Homo sapiens: one gene and its partner. The protein of the gene in region 1 interacts with the protein of each later gene in a pairwise test. Each region holds a gene or a part of one and is shown on either strand. Other genes may lie near its edges.

Region 1 (7,776 bases):
TAAATGTACTACTCTTCTCTAAGTAAATTCAAGGCAACAAATGAAAAAAGTATAAATAACAACAGTATTCTCATATAGTCAGTAAGACTGTTGGAGAATATTTTTGTAAGACAGTAATAATTGATTAAAATTGAGGTATTTCTTCTCTTAATAAATATATACATATACACATATATATTTTGAGACCTAGTTTTGCTCTTGTTGCCCAGGCTGGAGTGCAATGGTGCAATCTTGGCCTGCCACAACCTCTGCCTCCCAGGTTCAAGCGATTCTCCTGCCTCAGCCTTCCGAGTAGTTGGGATTACAGGCATGCACCACCACGCCTGGCTAATTTTGTATTTTTAGTAGAGATGGGGTTTCTCCATGTTGGTTGGGCTGGTCTCCAACTCCCGACCTCAGGTGATCCACCCGCCTTGGCCTCCCAAAGTGCTGCCATTACAGGCGTGAGCTCCTGTGCCCGGCCTTCTCTTGATATTTTTAAGGTACCAAATTACTTCAACACTCAGTCTCTGCAACTCAGATCTTTAAAAGTAATCAATATAATTACCTAAGATAAACTAATCTTAATTAAAATAGTAACAAATACAGGAAAAAAAGGCACTTCACATGTAACATCACTTAACATTTATATAATTCTTTACACAGATTTAAAAGGTACTTTTACCTACTTTGTTTATTTCCCCCTGAAAACCAGTGGGTATTTGTTATCTTATGTATTTTATTAGTAAAGATACTGGCTCTCAGTAAGATTTAGTAACTTAAACCTATAAACAGCCCAACCCGGCCGTAAACCAGAACAAGGGTCCTTAAATTACACTAAGCTGCCTCTTAGTTGATGGAAAAAGTGTTATCAATGTTATGTTCATACTAGCAGTTTACAAACTTTATCAAATACTTTATTATATGAATTAATTTATTCAGAAATAGGCCTGGCATAGTGGCTCATGCCTGTAATCCCAGCACTTTGGGAGGCCAAGGCAGGAGGATCACTTGAGGCCAAGAGTCTAAGACCAGCTTGGACAACATAGTGATGATACCTGATCTCTACTAAAACAAACAAAAAAGAAAGAAAGAAATAGTTATGTTGGATGGAGACCAGAAAGTCCCTACAATTAGCTCATCATACCAACACTTACTAGGTATAGTAGTAACAACTTCTCCCACTTGTAATCTGTACAAAATTGTGGTTTTTCCTGCTCCATCTAATCCCAAAATTAAAATTCTCATTTCCCGAGTTCCAAACAGACTGGAAAATATACTTGAGAAAAAGCCACCTAAAAAATAATAAAAGAAAAAACATACACAATGTCATTTTGTGAACTAGGTATACAAAACATCTAACCTTGTCCTTTGAGAGCTAAATACCAAATTAAATATTATAATTTCCTGGATGCGTAGGTGCATATTTTTCCTCCCAATGAAATATATTATTCAATATCAAACAAGTAATTAGTTATGTTACTATGTCCTTAGTTATGTTACTATTGTGTCATGCAGGCACAGAAGATAAACCAAATAATAAGAGAAATATGGCCGCGGCCTTTGGGAATCTCATTTTCTAATCAGCAGAATAGGAATATTTTAGCATGATCCCCTCACTACCCCTAAAAACCAAGGGGCCAGTAAGGAGGATAGTGGGACAATGTAATCCTCGCACAGGAAAAGTACTGTACAGCAGCAGTACCACTATAACCAACTTCAATCAGAGTTCTCCACGAAGCAATATAGCTAGTACAAGAAATTGAGAAAAAAGCTGAAAACAATAACTATTTTTGACAAAAAACCCACTTTTAAAAATAATAAAGCTCTATCCAATGCATCACAAAATATTCCCAGAAAGCTTCCTGTACACCAAGTATTGTGTAGGATAAAAAGCACAGTCCTTTTCCCATCCAGAGCCATTAGAGAAGATTAAAAACAAGTTACATTAATACAAAAAAAAATAGTTAACATCAGAAGTGATGCCACACTGTTATTTGGCAAAGACATGGCATAACTAAGAGCTGCGAGTTGAAAAATGAACAACACCATGGGCTAGAGAACCTTGGGAAAGTTCAACAGAATAGGTGTGACTTGACAAAGTCCTTTCTACCATTTACAGGTAGAAGAGAGGCGGAACAAAACTGAAGGCGGTTATGGAAGACAGGACAGCGCCTGTGATGCTTGGGAGCAAGAAGTATGCTCCCCAGAAAACTGTGGAGGGATTTAACCAAGCCAAAGAATCTGCACCTTCATTTGGAGGGTGAGAAACGAGTTAAAGAATGTGCACCCTCACTTGGGTTCTAGCGGGGCGAGGGTGTTACCTGATGCTTGTGAGAATGCAGTTCCCTCAATCAGCGGGCCAAGAACCAAGAATAAAGTTTCATTTGCCGACTAGAAATACCCGTATTATTACATGAAACGCTACAGCAGATTAGCAGACAAATGCCAAACTGGCCATAAAACAACATAAGCAACACCTGCTCTCAGGTTTTTCAAACTGACGCCGTCCCAGCGCCCCTGGTAAAGAGAATGATTAAGCTTCCACTCTGGGGCCGCAGCTCATCTTTCACCAAGAAACCTCGGCGAACCTGCGACTGACGCGTTGCCAGCCTCCGCAAGAACAACTCTGCCCAGCAAGTGGAGCTGGGGATGAGGGAAAACTTCATGATAAGGGTAAAGAACTCGAACCCAGGCTCTGCGGACGTCCCCAAGCTGTCCGGGTCCCTGGACCCCGCAGGAATCAAGGGGAACCGAGAGAGGACGGAGGAGAACGCGAGAGGCCGGATCCACCCCTACAGATGAAGATCCAAAGTGAGTCAAGTCCTCCGCGACCCGCCCCCTGAGGAGCTGGCTACTCTAGGGTATCCTGGCCGGCCCCTCTCCTCCTCTGCACCCCAGCCCTCGGCCGCGGCTCCCTCGAGCGCGCCCAGGTGCCCTTCTCGAACCCCTCACCCATGATGAACCCCCTGTCCTCCCTCGCCGATCTTCAGTGATTCCTTGGCCTTCGGCTGCAGCTCCGAGGCGGTTTCCTCGCAAGCCCAGTCAGCCAGCAACTTCCACGTCGGACTCCAGGCGGGGGCGGGAGCGAGGGTCAGCTGCGACTGCGCGCCGGGAACGGTGGCCTGAGCATCCGCGTCGTCGCTTTCGACTCACGGTCCCCGCTCACTGGATGTAGATACCGTGGAGGCCAGAAGAGACGAATAATTCAAAAACCTGAAGTCTCTCCTGCTTGTGTTTTTCTGGACAGAAAGAGCTTCTGAAATAGAGAAATTGGAATTTTTGTTTTAAATTCTGACACCAAAAAGTGGCGAATCTGACAACTGAAAATGCGAGTCGGGCCTCGATGAGTCGTCCCGGTCGAACGCTGGCGCAGGCTGCGGCGTTGCAGAGGACGCGTGTCCCGGAGCGCCCTGCGGGGCCAGCCCAACTCTCCCTAGGTGCTTTCTCCCAGAAAGAAACAAGACTACGTAATAATAATAGGAATGGTACCGCGCTGCCAATGCGGAGCAGCCTTGCACCTGAGGCCAGTAACCAGAGGTTTTTGTCTTCGCTGTGGCCTGCAGGACGAGGACCTCGCCGGCTTTTTTTCTCGCTGACCGAGCAGCTGAGACCGCCTTTCAGGGGTCGGCAGTGTGGACTGGCTGGTCCCGATCGTGGGGACCAGGGACTTATTCCCTCGAGGGTCGACTGTTGGAAGTAATGTAGGTTTTGATAGTGAAGTGTGTGGAGAGGAAGAAGGAAGCACACCTATAGGATGTGGAGAAGGGATTTCCCCTAGAGAAATTTTTAAAGGTTGAGCATGTATGTTTTGAAACTTCCCAAAGATCCATTGAAAAGTGAACCTTCCGGCCGGGCGCGGTGGCTCACGCCTGTAATCCCAGCACTTTGGGAGGCCGAGGCGGGCGGATCACGAGGTCAGGAGATCGAGACCATCGTGGCTAACACGGTGAAACCCCGTCTCTACTAAAAATACAGAAAATTCACCAGGCGTGGTGGCGGGCGCCTGTAGTCCCAGCTACTCAGGAGGCTGAGGCAGGAGAATCACTTGAACTCAGGAGGCAGAAGTTGCAGTGAGTCGAGATCGTGCCACTGCACTCCAGCCTGGGCGACAGAGCGACACTCCGTCTCAAAAAAAAAAAGAGAAAAGTAAACCTTCCATCCCTAATACCCTGTATCTCGGTGATCCCCAGTAGTCACTACTGTTAATACTCTCTTAGGTTTTCTTCCAAATCTTATTAATACCTTTGCATATTATGTTTTTATTTATGGTAGAGATTTTCATCCATTCAACAGAAGCTTATGGACTGCCTTTTTAGTTTATTTTAAAAGAATTTTTCTAGCTTTAAATAAAAATTGTATATATTTACAGTGTACCATGTGATGTTTTCATAGTTGTATATGTTGTGAAATGATAACATACCCATCACCTCACATAGTCGTGTGTGCTTGTGTGTATATGTTTATTTTGTGCTAAGAATATTTAAGGTCGGCCAGGTGTCGTGGCTCAGGCCTGTAATCCCAGCTCTTTGGGAGGCCGAGGCGGGCAGATCCCTTGAGCCCAGGAGTTGGAGTCCAGCCTAGGCAACATAGTGAGACCCCATCTCTACAAAAAAATAAAAAAATTAGCCAGGCACAGTGGCACTTGTAGTCCCAGCTACTTGAGAGGCTGAGATGGGAGGATCACTTGAGCCTGGGAGGCAGAGGTTGCAGTGAGCCAAGATCCCGCCATTATTCTGCTCTCATTCTATGAGTTCCACTTTTTTTGACTCTACATATAAGTGGGATCATGAAGTATTTGTGTTTCTGTGCCTAGCTTATTTCCCTTAGCATAAATTCACCCATGTTGTCACAAATGACAGGATTTTCTTCTTTTTAAAGGCTGCATAGTATTCATTATATATATAAATATACATACATATACCACATTTTTACATTTCACGTTTTCTTTATCCATCAGTTCACTCTTAGGTGATTCCATACTTTGGCTATTATGAATAATGCTGCAATGAGCATGGTGATGCAGATATCTCTTTGACATACTGATTTCATTTTCTTTGGATATATACCCAGAATATATGGTATATACGTATATATTGTATATATGGTACATATGCATATATGATATATATGGTATATACTATATGGTTTATACTGTAGTTCTATTTTTAATTTTTTGAGGAGCCTCCATACTGCCTTCCATAGTGGCTATACCAATTTACATGCTCACCAACCATGCCTATCTTGGTTTTGATTTGTTTGCAGACTCCACTAGTTGTCTAGGTTCTGAACTAGTTTTTGCCTCTTGCTCTCATCCTTGCCCCCAAAACCACAGGTTCACGGAAATTTTCCTGCAAGGAAAAGTTTTGTTTTGTTTATTTTTATTTTTGTTAATGGTTTGAGAAGGGGAGAAGGGCTCTACCTAAACACCTGAACCTTTCTAAGGCTATCCTTTGTAAGCACTGTGTGGTCTAATTATTGGACCTCTGTGCTTATGATTCTATAATACCTCCTCTTAAACAAGATTAGTTTGCTGCTGCTTGAAAGATCTTGGCCATTACTACTTCAAACTTAGGTCAATGTCAGATTTATATTTGAGTATGATGTGTGTAATTCTTGAAAATACAGATTCCCTTTAAAAGAGAACTGAGGCGGGGCACGGTGACTCATGCCTGTAATCCCAGCCCTCTGGGAGGCCGAGGTGGGTGGATCACCTGAGGTCAGGAGTTCAAGACCAGCTCGGCCAACATGGTGAAACCCTGTCTCTACTAAAAATGCAAAAATTAGCCGGGTGTGGTGGCAGGTGCCTGTAATGCCAGCTGCTCGGGAGGCTGAGGCAGGAGAATCTCTTGAACCCGGGAGGCGAAGGTTGCAGTGAGCTGAGATCGCACCACTGCACTCCAGCCTGGGCGACAGAGCAAGACTCCATCTCAAAAAAATAAATAAAATAGAACTGAAAGGAAAAATGTGCTGTAATATAATTGTGTATTCAAACTACATATTCTGAACCAGATAAATGAGATATATATCGCGATGCTTTGTAAACTGAAATACTATATACAAATTTAAATGTATTGACAGCCTTTCAGAATCTATATTAAGCACCTAGTTACAAGTCACTGTGGAAATAACAGTGTAATAAAGACTAAAAAAGACCCATTAGGCATTTTGATCAAAAATTCTCATTTTTCAAAATTTGATCATATAATGCTTTGCTTTGTTAGTAAAGAACTGACCTAATTCCCTACAGGCATTGAAAACAAAACAAAGGCCAGAGCAATGGCTCATGCCTGTAATCCTAGCACTTTGGATTGAGGCGGAAGGATAGATTGAGGTCAGCAGTTCAAGACCAGCTGGGCAATATAATGAGACCCCGTATCTAAAAAAGAAAATTATTTTTGTAATTAGCCAGGCCTGGTGACACACACCTGTGGTCCCGGCTACTTCGGAGGCTGAGGCAGAAGGATTGCTTGAGCCCAGAAGTTTGAGGCTGCTGTGAGCTATGATCAAGCCACTACGATCTAGCTAGGGCAACAGAGCAAGACCTTTTTGCTAATAAATGGATAAATAAAGTGTTGAGACATTGAATAAAGAGATTTAATGAGCCAACGCACATGAAATAGAATAGTTATCAACACATAATACTCAAGGTTTTTTAAAAAAGTATTGAGAGCTTGTTTCAGCAGCACATACACTAAAATTGAAGAATACAAGGAAGATTAGCATGGCCTCTGCACAACAATGACATGCAAATTGAAGTGTTCCATATTTTAAAAAATTTTAAAAAAGAATAAAAGTGTTGAGACAAATTTATAATTAACAAAGTCATAAATAGCCAAGAGAAACTTAGCTAATCTTTATTGGTGATTACATCCCACCTCCACCACTGCTTCTCTCAGTTTATGACCACAGCAAGGTTCCTACTTTTATAGGAACGCAAATGCATAAAGGTCATGATAAGGTGTTGAAAAATAAAATAACAAAACTGCCATTTCCTGTATATTTTATGATTCTAACTAATGACAGCCATTACTCTGTAGGAAAGATACATATCTTTAGGGCAATGTTGCTTTTCAAAATGTAGTCATTCCTATTAATATTGACCTAGTATTATAGTTTCCTACTTATTAAAATGAAGTCTTTGAGGAAGTAGAATTATAGCATCATGCTAGAATTAAAACTAAATGTTTGGTTTTCATTTATTTATGTATTTATTTATTTGAGACAGGGTCTCACTTTGTCACCTAGGCTGGAGTACAGTAGTGTCATCATGGCTCATGTCAGCCTAGACCTCCAGGGCTCAAGCGATTCTCCCAGCTCAGCCTCACAAGTAACTGGGACTACAGGCGTGAAAAGCAAATTTAAAAATTTTTAATTTGTTCATAGAAATGGGGTCCCATTCTGTTGCCCAGGCTGAGCTTGACTTCTTAGACTCAAGTGATCCTCCTGCCTCAGCCTCCCAAAGTGTTAGGATTACAGGTATGAGCCACTGCACCTGGTCAAAACTAAATGTTTAGATTGTAAGTCTTTGGAATTTTTTTCTTTAAAGTCTTTAGAATTTTTTTCTTTAGACAACCATGTAGAATTGATCTCACCTCAAATGTCATCCTATTTAAAAATTGCAACCATGAATTGGCTCTCTGTTTGTCTGTTATTGGTGTATAAGAATGCTTGTGATTTTTGCACATTGATTTTGTATCCTGAGACTTTGCTGAAGTATCAGCTTAAGGAGATTTTTGGGCTGAGACGATGGGGTTTTCTAAATATACAATCATGTCTTCTGCAAACAGGGACAAT
Region 2 (7,000 bases), on another chromosome or scaffold:
TTATAAATTTGAGAAAAATTAACTCAGAAATTAAGTTATTTGAACTTCAGTTTTCAAAACAGGGTGGTTAAGTGTTAAGTTCTAGGTCTTCCACTTTCTTGAAGTGATCTGTAAACTCCCACAACAGTGTTGCCAGGATTGCTTAAATAAGACCTGCATCTAACACAACCACTGCACTGTCTCTGTTTTGGATGATGACAAGAAAGTAGGCCCCCACAGCCATGCTATTAAAATGTTATTTTATAATCATTTAGCCCTAAGAACTGTAACACGTTTCTAATAAAAAAAGTTTTATAAATAAGTGACACATAAATTGCAAAACAAGGTTGAAATGGAAAAAACATCATGTTTTTCCTTTTGGCAAAAAAAGTGATCCAACTTACGATTAGGGTTGGCATGGGATTGGGGTTAAAGCCAGATTAACTGAACAGGTCTTAATCTAGTAAGTGCTCTTAACAGGAAAATACTAAAAAGGCAGAGCACAGCCCTGGAGTAAACCAATGACTAGCTGATAATAAAATCCCAGTGGCTTGCTGTGGCTGCCCTGAAGAACGCACCTTGGCAGCACGGCACTCTTCCTGTAGTGCTGTCACTCTCTGCTGGTATGCACTTAGCGTACGCTGGTGCTGTTCCGCAGAGGTTTTCAGGTGCTCGTGGATTTTGTGCTTCTCTGATGTTATTTCAGCCAGCTGTATCTGGGGGTAAATCTTTAAATTTAGCTTTAGCAAATCCTATCTTCACTAGTTAAAGAGGTTTTCCTTAAAATACAAACTTTAGGTTTGAGACATAAGTACATATAAGGCATAATTAAGTAGTGAAATATTTTTATGTATTATTATTGAAAAAGCAGAGACAAGTAGAACATTTTCTAAGTTATCTTTTCTTAAACCAACATCAATTCAAAAAAAAGAAAATCCCAGACTACATATTTAACATACAATGTTTAAATACTTCAAGACATTATATATATAAAAATATACACAAATATAGCAAACATATAAAATCATTTTATAAACTGTTCCTTGTAACTGCAATAGCATTTAGTTCAGATGCAGGCTTATTTTATTTTGCACTATTCTATAGTATATTATGAATTTCCAAATACATGAAAATAATCTAGCTTGAGCCAAATAATATACTCCAGTTATATGCCAGACTTGATTTATTGTTGTAACTTCCTCAAAATGTTGAGGAATCTTTCTAGATATCGTTATAGGATAATCAATAAAATCTCTAAATGGTACCTCACTTCTACATGAAAAAACATTTTTTTAATCTTAAAAAGTAAAACCCTTACTTTATAGACTTCTACTTGCTGCTGGCTTGCCTCCAGCTCACCTTTTAAAGATGCTTGAAGTATTAAGTGATCAGTTTCCTATAGAATGAGAATCTTGGTTAAATTTTTTTTAATGTTACTCATAAATAAATTATGAATAAGTACTAAATATGAAACTGAAAAATTAACATACTGCTTGCTTTGAATCTGCCAGTTCCTTTTTGGTTTTCACAAGCAATTGCTTGATTTTGGTGTTTTTTTCTTCATATTGTTGTACTGAAGACTGTAATGAAGCTAGCACAAGAAATAATTTCAGCAGAAAAAGATGTAACAATTTTTATCAGTGAATTTAAATACACAAATATGTCTTCTTTGTATTGGCTTGTCTTTAAGCCTGTTTTAGCTTTTTATTATGGAATACTTCAAACATATGTGACAGTAGTAACAACAGTGCCATAAACTCTACTGTACCCAACTCCCGGCTGTAACAATTACAACCCATAGACAATCTTAGTTAACCCAGACCAGGAAACAGCAAGGTACTTAAGAAATGTTAAAGTGAATAAATGTGGACTACAAACATCTTTTTTTTTTCTTTTTTTTTTTTAATTATACTTTAAGTTTTAGGGTACGTGTGCACATTGTGCAGGTTAGTTACATATGTATACATGTGCCATGCTGGTGTGCTGCGCCCACTAACTCGTCATCTAGCATTAGGTATATCTCCCAATGCTATCCCTCCCCACTCCCCCCACCCCACCACAGTCCCCAGAGTGTGATATTCCCCTTCCTGTGTCCATGTGATCTCACTGTTCAGTTCCCACCTATGAGTGAGAATATGCAGTGTTTGGTTTTTTGTTCTTGAGATAGTTTACTGAGAATGATGATTTCCAATTTCATCCATGTCCCTACAAAGGACATGAACTCATCATTTTTTATGGCTGCATAGTATTCCATGGTGTATATGTGCCACATTTTCTTAATCCAGTCTATCATTGTTGGACATTTGGGTTGGTTCCAAGTCTTTGCTATTGTGAATAATGCCGCAATAAACATACGTGTGCATGTGTCTTTATAGCAGCATGACTTCAAACTATACTACAAGGCTACAGTAACCAAAACAGCATGGTACTGGTACCAAAACAGAGATATAGATCAATGGAACAGAACAGAGCCCTCAGAAATAACGCCGCATACCTACAACTATCTGATCTTTGACAAACCTGAGAAAAACAAGCAATGGGGAAAGGATTCCCTATTTAATAAATGGTGCTGGGAAAACTGGCTAGCCATATGTAGAAAGCTGAAACTGGATCCCTTCCTTACACCTTATACAAAAATCAATTCAAGATGGATTAAAGATTTAAACGTTAGACCTAAAACCATAAAAACCCTAGAAGAAGACCTAGGCATTACCATTCAGGACATAGGCATGGACTACAAACAACTTAATGGCAAACAGTTTTACACCCATTCTGGGTCCCCAGTAACATTTATCACTGTGTTAAACACCTGACTGACAGTGAAAGACTGGTGAAATAAACAAGTAATGCCCCCCACCAAATCAAGTTGTTATGATGAAATAATTAAAAAGTAAAGTGAATTTTCTTTAACTCACTTATTTCTTCTTGTAGGGTTTCTTGTTTCTGTTTTTGAATTTTTATTTCTTGCTCCAAATCTTCTATCTTGTTGTTTTTATTAGTTAACTTTTGATTTAGTTCTTTCATCAAACGTTCATAATCAGCTATTTCCATATTCATCAATGTGGTTTGTTGGGCATCCTGCACATTTTATAAGTAAAAGATTTACACAATAGTAGATCAGTTCATTTGTAAATTTTTTTTTTCATTTGTAAAATTGCTAAAATGATGCCACAGCAATAAATGGGTGCTTTTCTGTAATACTGAAATTGTTTACACTGTAACAAAGAAATGAGGAGTTGGATATTTTCTACTTTTTAATTTCACAAAATATTTTCTAATAGTTTAACCCAACTTTCTTAGTTTCATTTTATTTCATTATAACTAACTACAACTAGCAGCTGTAGCTTGCGGAGCTCTTATTTATAAAATACTAATATGTCAAGTGGCTCTTATAGTACATTTCTTTTTAGCCTCATCTTTGAAGGAGTAAAGTCAGCCAAAGTTTTAAGTATAATACAAATTTCAAGCTTTGACATTAATTAAATCTTAATGTGTCATACAACAATCATGTATACAAAATGAACTGTCAAACCAAAATCTTGTAACTCAGGAGCCTAGATTCTTCTGAAAGGACTGGTACTTAGAGAAGTAAGTTAAATTTCCAATTTTTTGAGCAAATAATTTATAAAGCATTATTTTAGTACCACAAGTAACATTCTAAAATATTCCTTTTCAACATGTATAGAATAGTTTAACAATGCAGGCTGAGTGCGGTGGCTCACACCTGTAATCCTAGCACTTTGGGAGGCTGAGATGGGCGGATCATTTGAGGTCAGGAGTTCCAGACGAGCCTAACCAAATTGGTGAAACTCCATCTCTACCCAAAATACAAAAAATTAGCCGGGTGTGGTGACGCATGCGTGGAATCTCGGCTACTTGGAAGGCTGAGGCACAAGAACTGCTTGAACTCGGGAGGCGGAGGTTGCAGTGAGCCGAGATCATGCCACTGCACTCCAGCCTGGGCCACAGAGTGAGATTGCAGAGAGAACAGAACAAACAGAACAACAAAACAGAACAATGTGAATATTACATCAATTTTGATCCTAGTGTTTTATTTTACCTTTTTAACCAGCTCTAATTCTTGCATGGTTTTCTGAAGCTGTTTCTTTTGCTTTTGAAGTTGTACCTGAAGTTCTTCAAGTTCATTTACAGTAGTGGCATGTTCCTGAAATTAAAAATAAAAACAACCCACACCACCCAACCAATATTAAAAAGGTATTTTTAAGGGGCTTTAAAATAAATCTGACGGCCGGGCGTGGTGTCTCACACCTGTAATCCCAGCACTTTGGGAGGCCGAGGCGGGTGGATCACAAGGTCAGGAGATTGAGACCATCCTGGCTAACACAGTGAAACCCCGTCTCCACTAAAAATACACACGGAAAATTAGCTGGGCATGGTGGTGAGTGCCTGTAATCCCAGCTACTCGGGAGGCTGAGGCAGGAGAATGGCATGAACCCAGGAGGTGGAGCTTGCAGTGAGCTGAGATTGCGCCACTGCACTCCAGCCTGGGCAACAGAGCGAGACTCCGTCTCAAAAAAATAAAATAAAATAAATCTGACACGCTAAAATACAAAAAGTTTGGTAATATTTCAATGTTTAAAATATATACACCCCAAATCACAGCATGGATTCTCAAATTTATGGTTGGTATTAAGGAATTAATGAACTCTGCTGTATTCATAAATGCTACTCTTAGTAAGTCTTCCCTTCATTTAAATAATATTTTGGTAAATGCATCATATATATGTGAATCAATCTCATAGGATTGTTTTTACCTTTATCTTCTGTTCTTTCTGAAGTTTTTCAGCTTCTAATTCTTTGTCTACCATTGCTTTGGCTCTCTGGACTTCTAAAATCTGTACTTCTAATAATTTGGCATTAGACTGTAATGTCTCAATACGAGCCAGGAGATCTTCATTATCAGAATTTATTGTTTCACACTGAAATGACAAATGATTCATTACTATAAACATGCAAAAAACATATACAGCAGAGGAAGAATGAACAGGTACATTAATGAGAATATTGGCATAGTGTGACAAATGAAGATTTCCAAGTCCATGCTACAGAACGATAATATTAAGAATCAGTTTTAAAATCTGTCATTGAAATACTAATATGGTAAACCTTACAAGAGACCAGGTGCACTGGCAGAGCAAAGAGCAGAAACGAAAAACAAACAAACCCCCAAACAAACAAACAACCCTCTAGGGGAACTGAGATTAGAATAATAAGCAAGATAGTTGCTAGCTGTTTTGTCTTATTCTTCTCTCCTAAGTGGGAAGGAGGGTAAAGTGGGGGGGGAATAAATTCTGTTTCCGACTATATTTTTTAAATTTTTTATGCAAAAAGTATTGAGATTAAAATATACCTGTTATAGTTTTCATTTTTGGATTTATTAAAAAATTACCTGCAAAGTCGAATTTCTTAATTGTCTTGTAAGGTCTTCAATACGATGCTCAAAATTATTAGCACGTTCTTTTTCCACATCCAGTTGCTCTGACTGCTTTTCATATTCTAATAAAAGATTCTTCAATAAAAGAAGGATTTAACTTTGGTATATAATTTTGCATTCAACAGGTCAGACTTCATCATCAAGCCACCTTAAGATTCATGAGTCCATTCTGGATGCTTAAAATATTTACCCAAGTTGAACAGAATACCTAACTGGCATTAGGTAATAAAACTAGCACATTTTGGGTAACTTTTAGTATTGGAGAGTGGGGGAAATATATGAAAGAAGAAGAAAATTTTAAATATAAACAATATAATAGCTCCAAGGTTAAATATTCTACTCATTAACAAAAATGAACTTCTGAAGTGTAAACACAATTTAAGGATAGATACAACGTTTAATAAACACAATTTAAGGACAGAGGATAAAAAGTTTAACCTGGATACCTAACTCCACCTGAAGAATTCTAATGAGAGAAATATTCCAGGCCTGACCTAATATAAAGTAAAGGTGCTAATGAAAGAACACTGGAAGACATTCACAGATTTAGTCTCTCACACTCTGCAGTGACACTTTCAATATTTCCTGAAGAATCCAAAGACAACTGAATTTTCTTTGATATTCCTAGTTGGCCTACTGAAGGACAGAATGATCAGACTTTCTTGCCACACACAAGCTAATTAGGTTATCCACCAAAATATGTAAATGAGATTCAGTTTCGAGACTGCATGTAGTTCTTTATGTTTTTCTCTCTCTCTCCTTCCTTATAAATCCTGTTTTTGCCTTTGTTTCTGGAAAACTTCTATTCTTCCCATAAATGTGCCTGCAAAATTACTAGCAAAATGGTGTTTTTAAAAAATTTTTTAACTTTTAAGTTCAGGGGTACATGTGCAGGTTTGTTATGTAGGCAAACTTGTGTCACAGGGGTTTGTTGTACAGATTATTTCACCATCCAAGTATTAAGCCTAGTACCCATTAGTTATTTTTCCTGATCCTCTCCCTCCTCCTACCCCTCCACCTTCTGTTAGGCCCCAGTGTCTGTTGTTCCTCTGTATGTGTCCATGTGTTCTCATCATTTAGCTCCCACTTATAAGTGAGAACATGTGGTATTTAGTTTTCCGTTCCTCCATTAATTTGCTAAGGATAGTGGCTTCCAGCTTCATACATGTCCCTGCAAAGGACATAATCTCATATTTTTTTTATGGCTGTGTAGTATTCCATGGTGTATATATACCAATTTTCTTTATCCAGTCTACCACTGACAGGCCTTTCGGTTGATTCCACGTCTTTGCTATCATGAATAGTGCTGCAGAGAACATACATGTACATGTGTCTTTATGACACAATGACTCACATTCCTTTGGGTATATACCCAGTAACGGGATTGCTGGGTCAAATGGTATTTCTGTTTTTAGGTCTTTGAGGAATCTGTTTTCCACAATGGCTGAACTAATTTACACTCCCACCAAAAGTGTAAGTGTTCCTTTTTCTCTGCAACCTTACCAGCACCTGTTATTTTTTTGACTTTTTAATAGTAGCCATCCTGACTGATGTGAGGTGGTATCT

The links. Proteins that work in one complex are often made in the same cells at the same time.
Region 2: the proteins of ARL1 (region 1) and GCC2 interact in a two-hybrid assay, tested with the Homo sapiens proteins (one study listed by BioGRID).

What each region holds. Positions count from the first base shown.
Region 1 is NC_000012.12:101,404,708-101,412,483, forward strand, and holds the start of ARL1 (ADP-ribosylation factor-like protein 1), read right to left. Parts: upstream 3,066-7,776; 5' UTR 2,939-3,065; coding exon 2,935-2,938; intron 1,275-2,934; coding exon 1,137-1,274; intron 1-1,136. UniProt on the Homo sapiens protein: GTP-binding protein that recruits several effectors, such as golgins, arfaptins and Arf-GEFs to the trans-Golgi network, and modulates their functions at the Golgi complex.
Region 2 is NC_000002.12:108,480,206-108,487,205, reverse strand, and holds part of GCC2 (GRIP and coiled-coil domain-containing protein 2), read right to left. Parts: intron 5,510-7,000; coding exon 5,390-5,509; intron 4,920-5,389; coding exon 4,755-4,919; intron 4,145-4,754; coding exon 4,040-4,144; intron 3,058-4,039; coding exon 2,895-3,057; intron 1,571-2,894; coding exon 1,470-1,570; intron 1,376-1,469; coding exon 1,298-1,375; intron 696-1,297; coding exon 558-695; intron 1-557. UniProt on the Homo sapiens protein: Golgin which probably tethers transport vesicles to the trans-Golgi network (TGN) and regulates vesicular transport between the endosomes and the Golgi.